Linked DNA regions of Homo sapiens: region 2 is linked to region 1. Evidence: fine-mapped expression QTL. A gene starts in region 1. The other region holds a variant in brackets. All regions are shown on one strand. Distances are between the middles of the regions. Region 1 holds the start of PKN3 (protein kinase N3). Region 2 holds the start of LOC124902340 (small nucleolar RNA U13).

Region 1 (5,000 bases):
AATGGGTGCCAGGTTCTATTCTAAGTGCTTTGCATATATTACCACATCACTCCTCCCAGCCACCCCACCCGGTAGCGGTGGTCATTACCCCCATTTTCTTTTTTCTTTTTCTTTTTCTTTTTTTTTTTTTTGAGACAGTTTTGCTCTTGTTGCCCAGGCTGGAGTGCCATGGCACGATCTCGGTTCACCACAACCTCTGCCTCCCGGGTTCAAGCGATTCTCCTGCCCCAGCCTCCTGAGTAGCTGGGATTACAGGCACACGCCACTAAGCCCGGCTAATTTTGTATTTTTAGTAGGGACGGGGTTTCTCCATGTTCGTCAGGCTGGTCTTGAATCCTGACCTCAGGTGATCCACCTGCCTTGGCCTCCCAAAGTGCTGGGATTACAGGTGTGAGCCACCACGCCTGTACTATTACCCCTATTTTCTAGTGAGGAAACTGAGGCCCAGAGAGGTGAAGTAACTTGCCCACAGTCAAGACACAGAGGAGGGGCCACCATCTCTCGGGCCCCAGCTGTCCCTGGCAGCCCTGGGTAATCAGGCTGCTCTCTCTACATCTGGGACCCAAAGTAGAGTCCAGGAGCCACAAAAGCTACGCCGAATAGGGGTTCACACGAAGCCACATGAGAAGGCAGCCAGGGGCCTGGGAGCCAGGGCTTGTTCCCCTGATGTCCCAATGCCACAGGTAGCAAAGCAGAGGCACAGAGAGGAACTGGGGAGGTCTCCGGGTGCCCACTCCCTGCTCAGCTCCCGGGAGGAAGTAGAAGGCTCTCTCACGGCTTCACCCAGGTTGGAGCCAGGAACAGGAACACCTCCTTTCCAGCCGCCAGCATTTCAAACCAACCGGTGCCAAAGGTGACCTCAGGCCGGGTAACCCATGATGCCCCGCAACACGGGCTGTTGCAGGAACCCCATCTTACCTCTCTGTGTTCCATCTTCTCCTGAGCCCAGTGGAAGGGGCCGCAACCCCAGACTCAGGGACCCCCCCACCCCAGACCTCAGCGGGGCCTGCTGGCCCAGCTGTCAGAGGGCAAGGGCGAGGCTCAGGAAATCCTCTGACCGCCCTAGGCCACAGGGCCAGAGCCAAAGACCGGAGCAAACAAAGGTCCCATGGAGCTGGGGGCCCGGCCACCGGGGTCCTGAGTCACCCAGCTGCCGCTGCAGGGCGGAGCCCCGCAGGAAATCGGAAAATGTGTACAAGCTACGTCTGGAACAGGCGGAGGGACCTCCAGAGGAAGGGGGTGGGAGGGGGCAGACCGAGCCCCAGCCCTGAAGGCGGCCTAAACGACTGGCTTGGGCGCTCAAGGAGTCTACACGCACCCCGCAACACCCCCATGGTCCCGTCTGCCCTGGGTTGGAACTCCAACATGGACACACACACCACCTCCTTTCCGCTCTTTGCGGGGACCCACTCCTGTCCGCAAATGCCCCCCTCCCAACCACTCGCTCCGGAACAGGACACCACCTCTCCCTCCTCAGGAGCAGATAGACATGGCCTCGGTCCTCCGGGCCCACGCGCACCTACTGCCAGCTCTGGCAGGAAACCCAGCCCCCTCCGCATTCTAGAACCCGCTATGTACCCAAAGGTTCCCGCCCTGGGGCGGGGGAGGCCGCTCCCCTCTCATCTACGCTCCCCTCGTGCCTCCTGTGCTCCGGGAAGGACTCCTGCCACTGCCAAGCGCGCACAGACTGCGCCCCCCGCTGCGCGCACATTCTAACCCCCCCAGGCCCCTGTGCCCCGCCTTTCTATCCCGGCTAATTCCCGTCGGCCTTGGAGCCCCACCGAGGAGAACCGACTTAAGGACACTCTGGGGACCACCCTGGTGGCGCACACTGCGGACTCAGCCGTCCTCGCTCACGGGCTGGTTGGGGTTCAGTCTCCGGGTCAGCCGCGGACTGATTTGGAGACTGTGCAAGGTCCAGGAACCACCGAACCCGGAGATCAGGTCTGCTCTGCGAGGGCGTCGCGGGGCCGGGGCCAGGGCAGGGGCAGGGAAGGGGCGCGGGTGAGGGGAGGATCGGGGGAAGCGGCCGCGGTTCGGGGCTCCGGGGCGATGACAGAGGCTTTCTCGCACCCCCCGGGCCCGCGCGCCCCTCCCACGCCGTTCACCTGCCGCGGCGCCCCCTCCTCCATGGCGCCGCTCCGGCCGCTTGGGGCCCTTCTCTCAGCCACTCCGGTCCCGGAAGCCGCAGACCCTCCGCCAGGACTTTCAAACTTGAAACTTCCCGGGAAGCGGCGCCGGAGACGCGGGATCGGGCGCCCCCTCCCGAGACCCGCTGGCCCGCGGGACCAGCGCCGCCTCCCGTCCGCGCCGATCCAGCGCCCGGGACCCCACGCCCGAGGTCCCGCGCCCCAGCGCCTCCCTCGGATCCAAAATTCCGCGGGATTCTGGGCCCAGTACCCGGGCTTCGGCGCCTGCGGTTCCCGCTGGGCGTGACCGCGCCTCACCCCCGGTTTGGACGCTCAGGAGGCACATCGCCCGCGCCCAGGTCCTCTGGCCTTCCCCGCCGCGCGCCCGCGGGAGCCGGCCAGTTAGGGACAGGGATGGGGGAAACAGCGCCCCCTGAAGGTTGCCGGGTCGCCCAGCCGGGTGCAGCCGGTGGAGCTGGCCGCCTCCTCTAACTTTGAGCCCCTCTACAACCTGGCTCCCGCCTCTAACGCGCTGGGCCTCCTCGACCAAGCCCCTCAAGTCTCTCTTTGTCTCGCACGTTGTTGGTGTAATGTGGGCTAATCCAAAATTGTCTCTCTCCTCGGAGTGGTTGGCCCAGACTAGATATTAGTCACTACAAGAATGTATACTAGGCCAGGTGCGGTGGCTCACGCCTGTAATCCCAGCAGTTTGGGAGGCAGAGGTGGACGGATCACGAGGTCAGGAGTTCGAGACCAGCCTGGCCAACATGGTGAAACCCCCGTCTCTACTAAAAATACAAAAATTAGCCGGTCGTGGTGGCGGGCGCCTGTAATCCCAGCTACTCAGGAGGCTGAGGTGGGAGAATCACTTGTACCCAGTAGGCGGAGGTTGCAGTGAGCCGAGATCCTGCCACTGCCCTCCAACCTGGGTGACAGAGCGAGACTCCATCTCAAAAAAAAAAAAAAAAAAAAAAAAAGAACGTATACTTGTGGAAAAGTAAATCCTCACCCAAAATTATGATAAATTACAAATTACAGATGAATGAACCAGACCTCTCTCCGGCCCATCTCTTACTCAGACTGAGCTTGCTGGTTCAGCCCGTGCCACTTTTTAGGGCTTTACCCTAAAAAGCCCATCCATCCACACGGGAGAAAAGCCATTTACACCTGGTGAAATAGCCGCCACTATTTCAGCCCAAGGGAGGTGTGCTGGTCACTGCCTAGTCTATGGCGGGCCATTCAGCCCGTCCTGGCATCCTGCGTTTACAGGAGGTTGTGTCAGCACTTCGTGGAGGAGCGTCCTCCAGGAGGTGGGAAGGTGATGAAGGGTCAAATACCGACAGTGACTTGGAACAGACAGGCTCTGGTGCTCTTACTGAATGAAGGAAGCCACATGTTGTGCTTTGCACTAATCACTTCCTTCATAATGGACTGGAAAAAAGTGAAATTGGTGAGCCATGGACAACACTGGGTTGTCCTGCTATGGGAAATCACCCAAGTGGCATTGACATATAAGCAAAGGCAACTTGGCTCTGTGAAACATGCCCAGATTTCATAATCAGAGGCGAAATGTGACATTTACACATTAGAGTTGTTGAGGTCTAGACATTAGCAGAAGCACCTGGCACATAGTAGGTTCTTTGACATGGGGGTTGGCTGGGCATGGTGGCTCATGCCTGTAATCCCAGCACTTTGGGAGGCTGAGGAGGGCAGATCACTTAAGGTCAGGAGTTCAAGACCAGCCTGGCCAACATGGTGAAATCCCGTCTCTGCTAAAAAAAAATTAAAAAGGCAGCTGGGCGCGGTGGCTCACGCCTGTAATCCTAGCACTTTGGGAGGCCGAGGCAGGCGGATCACAAGGTCAGGAGTTCGAGACCAGCCTGGCCAACATGGTGAAACCCCGTCTCTACTAAAACTACAAAAAAAAAATATTAGCTGGGCATGGTGGTGGGTGCCTGTAATCCCAGCTACTAGGGAGGCTGAGGCTGGAGAATCACTTGAACCTGGGAAGTGGAGGTTGCAGTAAGCCAATCTCGCCACTACACTCCAGCCTAGATGACAAGAGCAAAACTGCATCTCAAAAAAATACATAAAATAAAAAATTAGAAAAACTAGCTGGGCGTGGTAGCGCACGCCTGTAGTCCCAGCTACTCGGGAGGCTGAGGCAGGCAAATCACCTGAATCTGGGAGGCAGAGGTTGCAGCGAGCTAAGATCACGCCACTACACTCCAGCCTGGGCAACAGAGCAAGATTCTGTCTCAAGAAAAATAAATAAATAAAAATAAAATAAAATGGAGGTTAAATGAACGTTATTATCCATCATTTAGAAGCAAAAAGGCTGACCAAGCCCAGTGGCTCATGCCTGTAATCCTAGAACTCTGGGAGGCTGATGAGGCAGGAGGATTGCTTGAGGCCTAAGAGTTCAAGACCAACCTGGCCAACATAGTGAGACACCATCTCTTAAAAAAGTAAAATAAAGAAGTAAAAAAGTCCTCAGCTTCTCACTGCAGCTCATCAAAAACCCAGGAATCAAACTAACAAGCCTTCCCCACCTTTTAGGAATTCTCCAGTGGTGCAATCAGTCCAGCCAGCTAATTAACACTTTAAAATGTGTATTTGCCTTGATGGCTAAATGTTACTTCTGGAAGCCAAGAGTAATCTGAGATAACTCTCCATAGGAGGGTGCTCACATCTCAACTCCCGGCTCATTTATCCACTCACTGCAGGCAGGAAGCTGAATTCGATGGTTTTCCAAGTTTGGTTGGAAAGTGGCTTTGTTTTTTGTTTTTTTGAGAGAGTCTTGCTCTGTCACCCAGGCTGGAGTGCAGTGGCTCAATTTTGGCTCACTGCAACCTCCACCTCCCGGGTCCA
Region 2 (5,510 bases), 49 kb before region 1:
CCTCTCCTGAGCCAGGCTTTTTTCTCTCCCAGGTATGTGGAGCTGGTGAACGCTGCCTGTAACTTCGAGCCACACGAGAGCTTCTTCAGCCTCTTTTCGGACCCCCGCAGCACCCGCCTCACGCGGATCCACCTCCGTGAGGACCTGGTGCAGGACCAGGACCTGGAGGCCATCCGCAAGCAGGTGAGACCTGCCCCGCCACAGCGCCAGGAGGGCCCACACCAAGCAGGGGCCAGGCTGCTCGCCTCCAGCCCAGCCATCCCCAGCCCAGCCAGTGTGCACCGTGACTGTGCACATCCCCCTTTCCAACCCACCTGTAGCCCAGGGCAAGGCCTGGGGCCGGGGGAAGGGGCAAGGGTGGTGATGATGATGGAGCTGTGCCCACTCCCAGGACCTGGTGGAGCTGTACCTGACTAACTGCGAGAAGCTGTCCGCCAAGAGCCTGCAGACACTGAGGAGCTTCAGCCACACCCTGGTGTCCTTGAGCCTCTTCGGCTGTACAAACATTTTCTATGAGGAGGAGAACCCAGGGGGCTGTGAAGATGAGTACCTCGTCAACCCCACCTGCCAGGTGCTGGTTAAGGATTTCACCTTCGAGGGCTTCAGCCGCCTCCGCTTCCTCAACTTGGGCCGCATGATTGATTGGGTCCCTGTGGAGTCCCTGCTGCGGCCGCTTAACTCCCTGGCTGCCTTGGACCTCTCAGGCATTCAGACGAGCGACGCCGCCTTCCTCACCCAGTGGAAAGACAGCCTGGTGTCCCTCGTCCTCTACAACATGGACCTGTCCGACGACCACATCCGGGTCATCGTGCAGCTGCACAAGCTGCGGTGAGCTCCTGGCCCAGAGCTCACCAGGGTGGGGTTTGGGGGGCAGGTGGGGAGGAGTAGAGGTGGGTGTTGTCACGCCCTCAGGGTTCAGGAGCGCTTGGCTAGGCAGAGGGTGGGGATGAAGACACAGTCCCATTCCTTAAACCCAGTGTTTCAGCTGGATTGGGGCTGTTTGGGGTTTCTTCCCAGAATGCCCTGGGGAAGTTGTGGCAGGAATGGGCCCTCCCCTGCTACAGACTAAAGGAGCTGGGATCTGCAAGGCAGCCCCACCCTGTACCCAGCTCCTAACCTGCACCCCCTACCCCAATCTTCAGACACCTGGACATCTCCCGAGACCGCCTCTCCAGCTACTACAAGTTCAAGCTGACTCGGGAGGTGCTGAGCCTCTTTGTGCAGAAGCTGGGGAACCTAATGTCCCTGGACATCTCTGGCCACATGATCCTAGAGAACTGCAGCATCTCCAAGATGGAAGAGGAAGCGGGGCAGACCAGGTGGGGCCCCAGCCTCCATGGCTACTGGTAGGGTGTCATTCAACAGGCATTTAGGCTGGCGCAGTGGCTCACGCCTGTAATCCCAGCACTTTGGGAAGCCAAGATGGGCGGATCACTTGAGGCCAGGAGTTAGAGACCAGCCTGGCCAACATGGTGAAACCCCATTTCTACTAAAAATACAAAATTTAGCTGGACATGGTGGCAGACACCTGTAGTCCCAGCTACTTGGGAGGCTAAGGTATGAGAATTGAAGCCGGGAGGCGGAGCCTGCAGTGAGCTGAGATCGCGCCACTGCACTCCAGCCTAGGCAACAAAGTGGGACTTTGTCTCAAAAAAAAAAAAAAAGAAAGTATTTGCCAAGTACCCCTCTGCCAAGTGCTGTGCTGGGTGCTAGAGATAAAGAAACAAATCAGGTCCTGCCCTCTTGGAGGCTGTGTGAGCTGGTGGGGACAATCAAGTCATTACAAGGGCTATGGTAGGGGCAATCCAGGGCCCCGGTGTGGCCTGAGGATCAGGAAGGAAGGAGGAGGAGGGACGCATCCTGGCTGTCCTGAAAGCTCATTCTGCCTCTGCCAGAGGAAGCGTGTTCTAGCAGAGGGAACAGCACCTGCAAAGGCCAGTAGGTGAGAGCATGAGGAGCGACAGGGGAACTACCCAACACTCAGCCTGACCAGAGCACAGTGCCATGGGGGGAAGAGGCAAGGCTGGCAGTGTCTGCCACCTATGGAGTATTGCTGGACATAGGTCGGTTCTTGGATTGGTTGGTTGAGAAGTTTGACCAAACCCTACCAGCTGTAACTGGCCACCCATAAGCCCTGGCCCCAGCCTGCTTTAATGGTGTTCAGTTGAGCTTGTCCCTTTGTGATTGTTGGTGAGACCTAAAGGTGCCATGTCCTTACTAGAATGGCAGGTGGTTTCTAAAGGTGGCTGCATTGCCCATCCTATGTGTTCCCCTACTATGTGGCTTTGCCATGCTTCCATCAGGAGGTGGTGCTTATGTCCCCTACCATTAAAAACAAAAGGAGTAGGGGATGAGGTTGGAGGGCCTAGAAGAGAAAGCAAGGAAATGCCTCACCACCCCCAGTGGGGAGGCCCAGCTCAGGCCTGGGTCCCAAGCCACTGACACCGGCACCCTCTTTCCCCAGCATTGAGCCTTCCAAGAGCAGCATCATACCTTTCCGGGCTCTGAAGAGGCCGCTGCAGTTCCTCGGGCTCTTTGAGAACTCTCTGTGCCGCCTCACGCACATTCCAGCCTACAAAGTGAGCAGTGGAAGTGGGATGGGTCTGGGCCAGGGAGCCTTGGGAGAGAGAAGGAGCTGGATTCTGGGGCTGGAGACTGAGCTGGGATCTGGCATCCCAGCCCTTGGCCTCTGCTGGGTTGTTCTGAGCGTGTCCCACCCGCAGGTAAGTGGTGACAAAAACGAAGAGCAGGTGCTGAATGCCATCGAGGCCTACACGGAGCACCGGCCTGAGATCACCTCGCGGGCCATCAACTTGCTTTTTGACATCGCCCGCATCGAGCGTTGCAACCAGCTGCTGCGGGCCCTGAAGGTCAGCTCCAAGCCTGGGGCCTTGGCCTCC[T/C]GTCCCTCCCCACCTGGAGGTTGCCGGGCTTGGCTGAGCCGTGTCCCCAGAGCCTGTGTCCTTCTGCACCCTGTCCCCAGGGCCCCAGGACCCGAACCCCAGCCTGGGCCTCACAGCACTTGACTTGCTTCAGCACTGGCCTTGTTTGGTCCCCACCCTGGTGTCTGCTCCCCAGGCCCCACTTCTGCCTTTAGAGAGCAAGACCAGGCTAAACCTTGCCCCAGAGAGCCTGTTCCAGCCCCTTGCAGAGCCCAGGCCTCTCCCTGCACTTGCCAGCCCAGGTCCCCCTTGTCTTCATACAGCTGGTCATCACGGCCCTCAAGTGCCACAAATATGACAGGAACATTCAAGTGACAGGCAGCGCCGCTCTCTTCTACCTAACAAATTCCGAGTACCGCTCAGAGCAGAGTGTGAAGCTGCGCCGGCAGGTTATCCAGGTGGTGCTGAATGGCATGGAATCCTACCAGGAGGTGACGGTGAGCCCCCACCCGCCACGGCCCCGCATGCTCTGGCCCAGCCACCCCTTTCCTGCTTCTTGCGTCCCGCTAGGGCTCCCCCGGCTCTGGGCTGCATCTGTCCCAGCTCCCTTTCCCACAGCAGCACTCCCTGACTCTTGGGACCTGGCCCTTCCCACAGTCCATCACTCCTGGCTGCCCTCCATCCTCCTCCCTGCCCCATGTGGGGGTGGGGGCCCAGGGACCCTGCCCTTCTCCCTGCCTGTGCCGTCTCCTCAGCCCTTCTGCCCATACACTCTGCTGGGGGATTTCTTACCAACAGCTGCTTTTAATATAAAAGTAATAAAAGCCTTTATTATAGAAAAGTTATAATTACAGATATACAGAAAATAAAAATCACCCATAAACCCACTACCCAGAGACAGGCACCATTAACATGGGATATCAATTGTGAATTTTAGCCTATGCACACATATTTTGTAAATGGGATACACAAACTGCATACTGTTTGTATATGGTGGATTTTTACTTCAACTGTGTTGTCACATGAATATGAACATCTCCCTTATCCGCCAACAATTTTTTTCTTTTTTGAGATGGAGTTTCACTCTTATTGCCCAGGCTGGAGTGCAATGGCACAATCTCGGGTCACTGCAACTTCCACCTCCCGGGTTCAAGTGATTCTCCTGTCTCAGCCTCCCGAGTAGCTGGGATTACAGGCATGCGCCACCATGCCCGGCTAATTTTGTATTTTTAGTAAAGATGGGATTTTACCATATTGGTCAGGCTGGTCTCGAACTCCTGACCTCAGGTGATCCACCTGCCTCAGCCTCCCAAAGTGCTGGGATTACAGATGTGAGCCACTGCGCCTGGCCAGCCAACAAATTTTTTTTTCAGATGGAGTCTTGCTCTGTTGCCCAAGCTGGAGAGCAGTGGCGGGTTCAAGTGATTCTCCTGCCTCAGCCTCCCAAGTAGCTGGGACTACAGGTGCATGCCACCACACCTGCCTAATTTATGTATTTTTAGTAGAGACGGGGTTTTGCCATGTTGGTCAGTCTGGTGTTGAACTCCTGACCTCAGGTGATCCACCTGCCTCAGCCTCCCAAAGTGCTGGGATTACAAGCATGTGCCACCACACCCAGCCAACATATTTATATAACAAAAACTTTTTTTCATTTCAGATGGGCAATATGCCAACGTCCTAACATGGTTTGAGGGAGGCACATTTCACACATGAGCATGAAGACCTAATCATCACTCTTATAAACTACGAAAGGATCAAACAATAATTTTTATTTATTTATTTTTTCGAGATGGAGTCTTACTCTGTCGCCCAGGCTGGAGTGCAGTGCACAATCTTGGCTCACTGCAATCTCTGCCTCCTGAGTTCAAGTGATCCTCCTGCCTCAGCCCCCCTAGTGGCTGGGACTACAGGCACGTGCCACCATGCCAGGCTAATATTTGTATTTTTAGTAGAGACAGGGTTTCGCCATGTTGGCCAGGCTGGTCTCGAACTCCTGAGCTCAGGTGATCCACCTGCCTCGGCCTCCCAAAGTGCTGGGATTACAGGCGTGAGCCACCGTGCTCAGCCACAATATATATATATATATTTTAATTAAGACAGGGTCTCAGGCTGGGCGTGGTGGCTCACGCCTGTAATCCCAGCACTTTGGGAGGCTGAGGCAGGCAGATCATGAGGTCAGGAGTTTGAGACCAGCCTGGCCAACATGGCGAAACCCCATCTCTACTAAAAAATACAAAAATTAGCTGGCCACGGTGGCTCACACCTGTAATCCCAGCACTTTGGGAGGCTGAGGCAGGCGGATCACCTGAAGTCAGGAGTTCGAGACCAGCCTGGCCAACGTGGTGAAACCCTGTCTCTACTAAAAATACACAAATTAGCTGGGCATGGTGGCAGGCGCCTGTAGTCCCAGCTACCTGGGAGGCTGAGGCAGGAGAATTGCTGGAACCCAGGAGGTAGAGGTTGCAGTGAGCTGAGATCAAGCCACCGAACTCCAGCCTGGGTGACAGAGGGAGACTCTGTCACAAAGAAAAACAAAAACAAATACACAGGGTCTCACTTTGTTGCCAAGGCTGGAGTATAGCGGCATGATCACAGCTCACTGTGGCCTCCACCTCTCAGGCTCAAGCAAGC

The links. PIP is the estimated chance that this variant, and not a neighbour inherited with it, causes the effect.
Region 2: its variant is the best candidate, but not a certain one, in a credible set for the expression of PKN3 in minor salivary gland (GTEx, PIP 0.55).

What each region holds. Positions count from the first base shown.
Region 1 is chr9:128,700,048-128,705,047 of GRCh38, reverse strand. PKN3 (protein kinase N3) reads right to left here and starts at 2,545. Exons shown (of 22, transcript NM_013355.5): 1 at 2,109-2,545. The coding sequence starts at 2,132. RefSeq lists an enhancer at 1,729-2,268 and a silencer at 2,083-2,652.
Region 2 is chr9:128,748,482-128,753,991 of GRCh38, reverse strand. It overlaps ZER1 (zyg-11 related cell cycle regulator), which reads left to right. Exons shown (of 16, transcript NM_006336.4): 3 at 33-183; 4 at 392-828; 5 at 1,143-1,319; 6 at 2,465-2,579; 7 at 2,724-2,870; 8 at 3,203-3,376. It overlaps LOC124902340 (small nucleolar RNA U13), which reads right to left and starts at 4,634; the gene lies at 4,531-4,634. The variant T/C (reference allele first, on the strand shown) is at 2,901.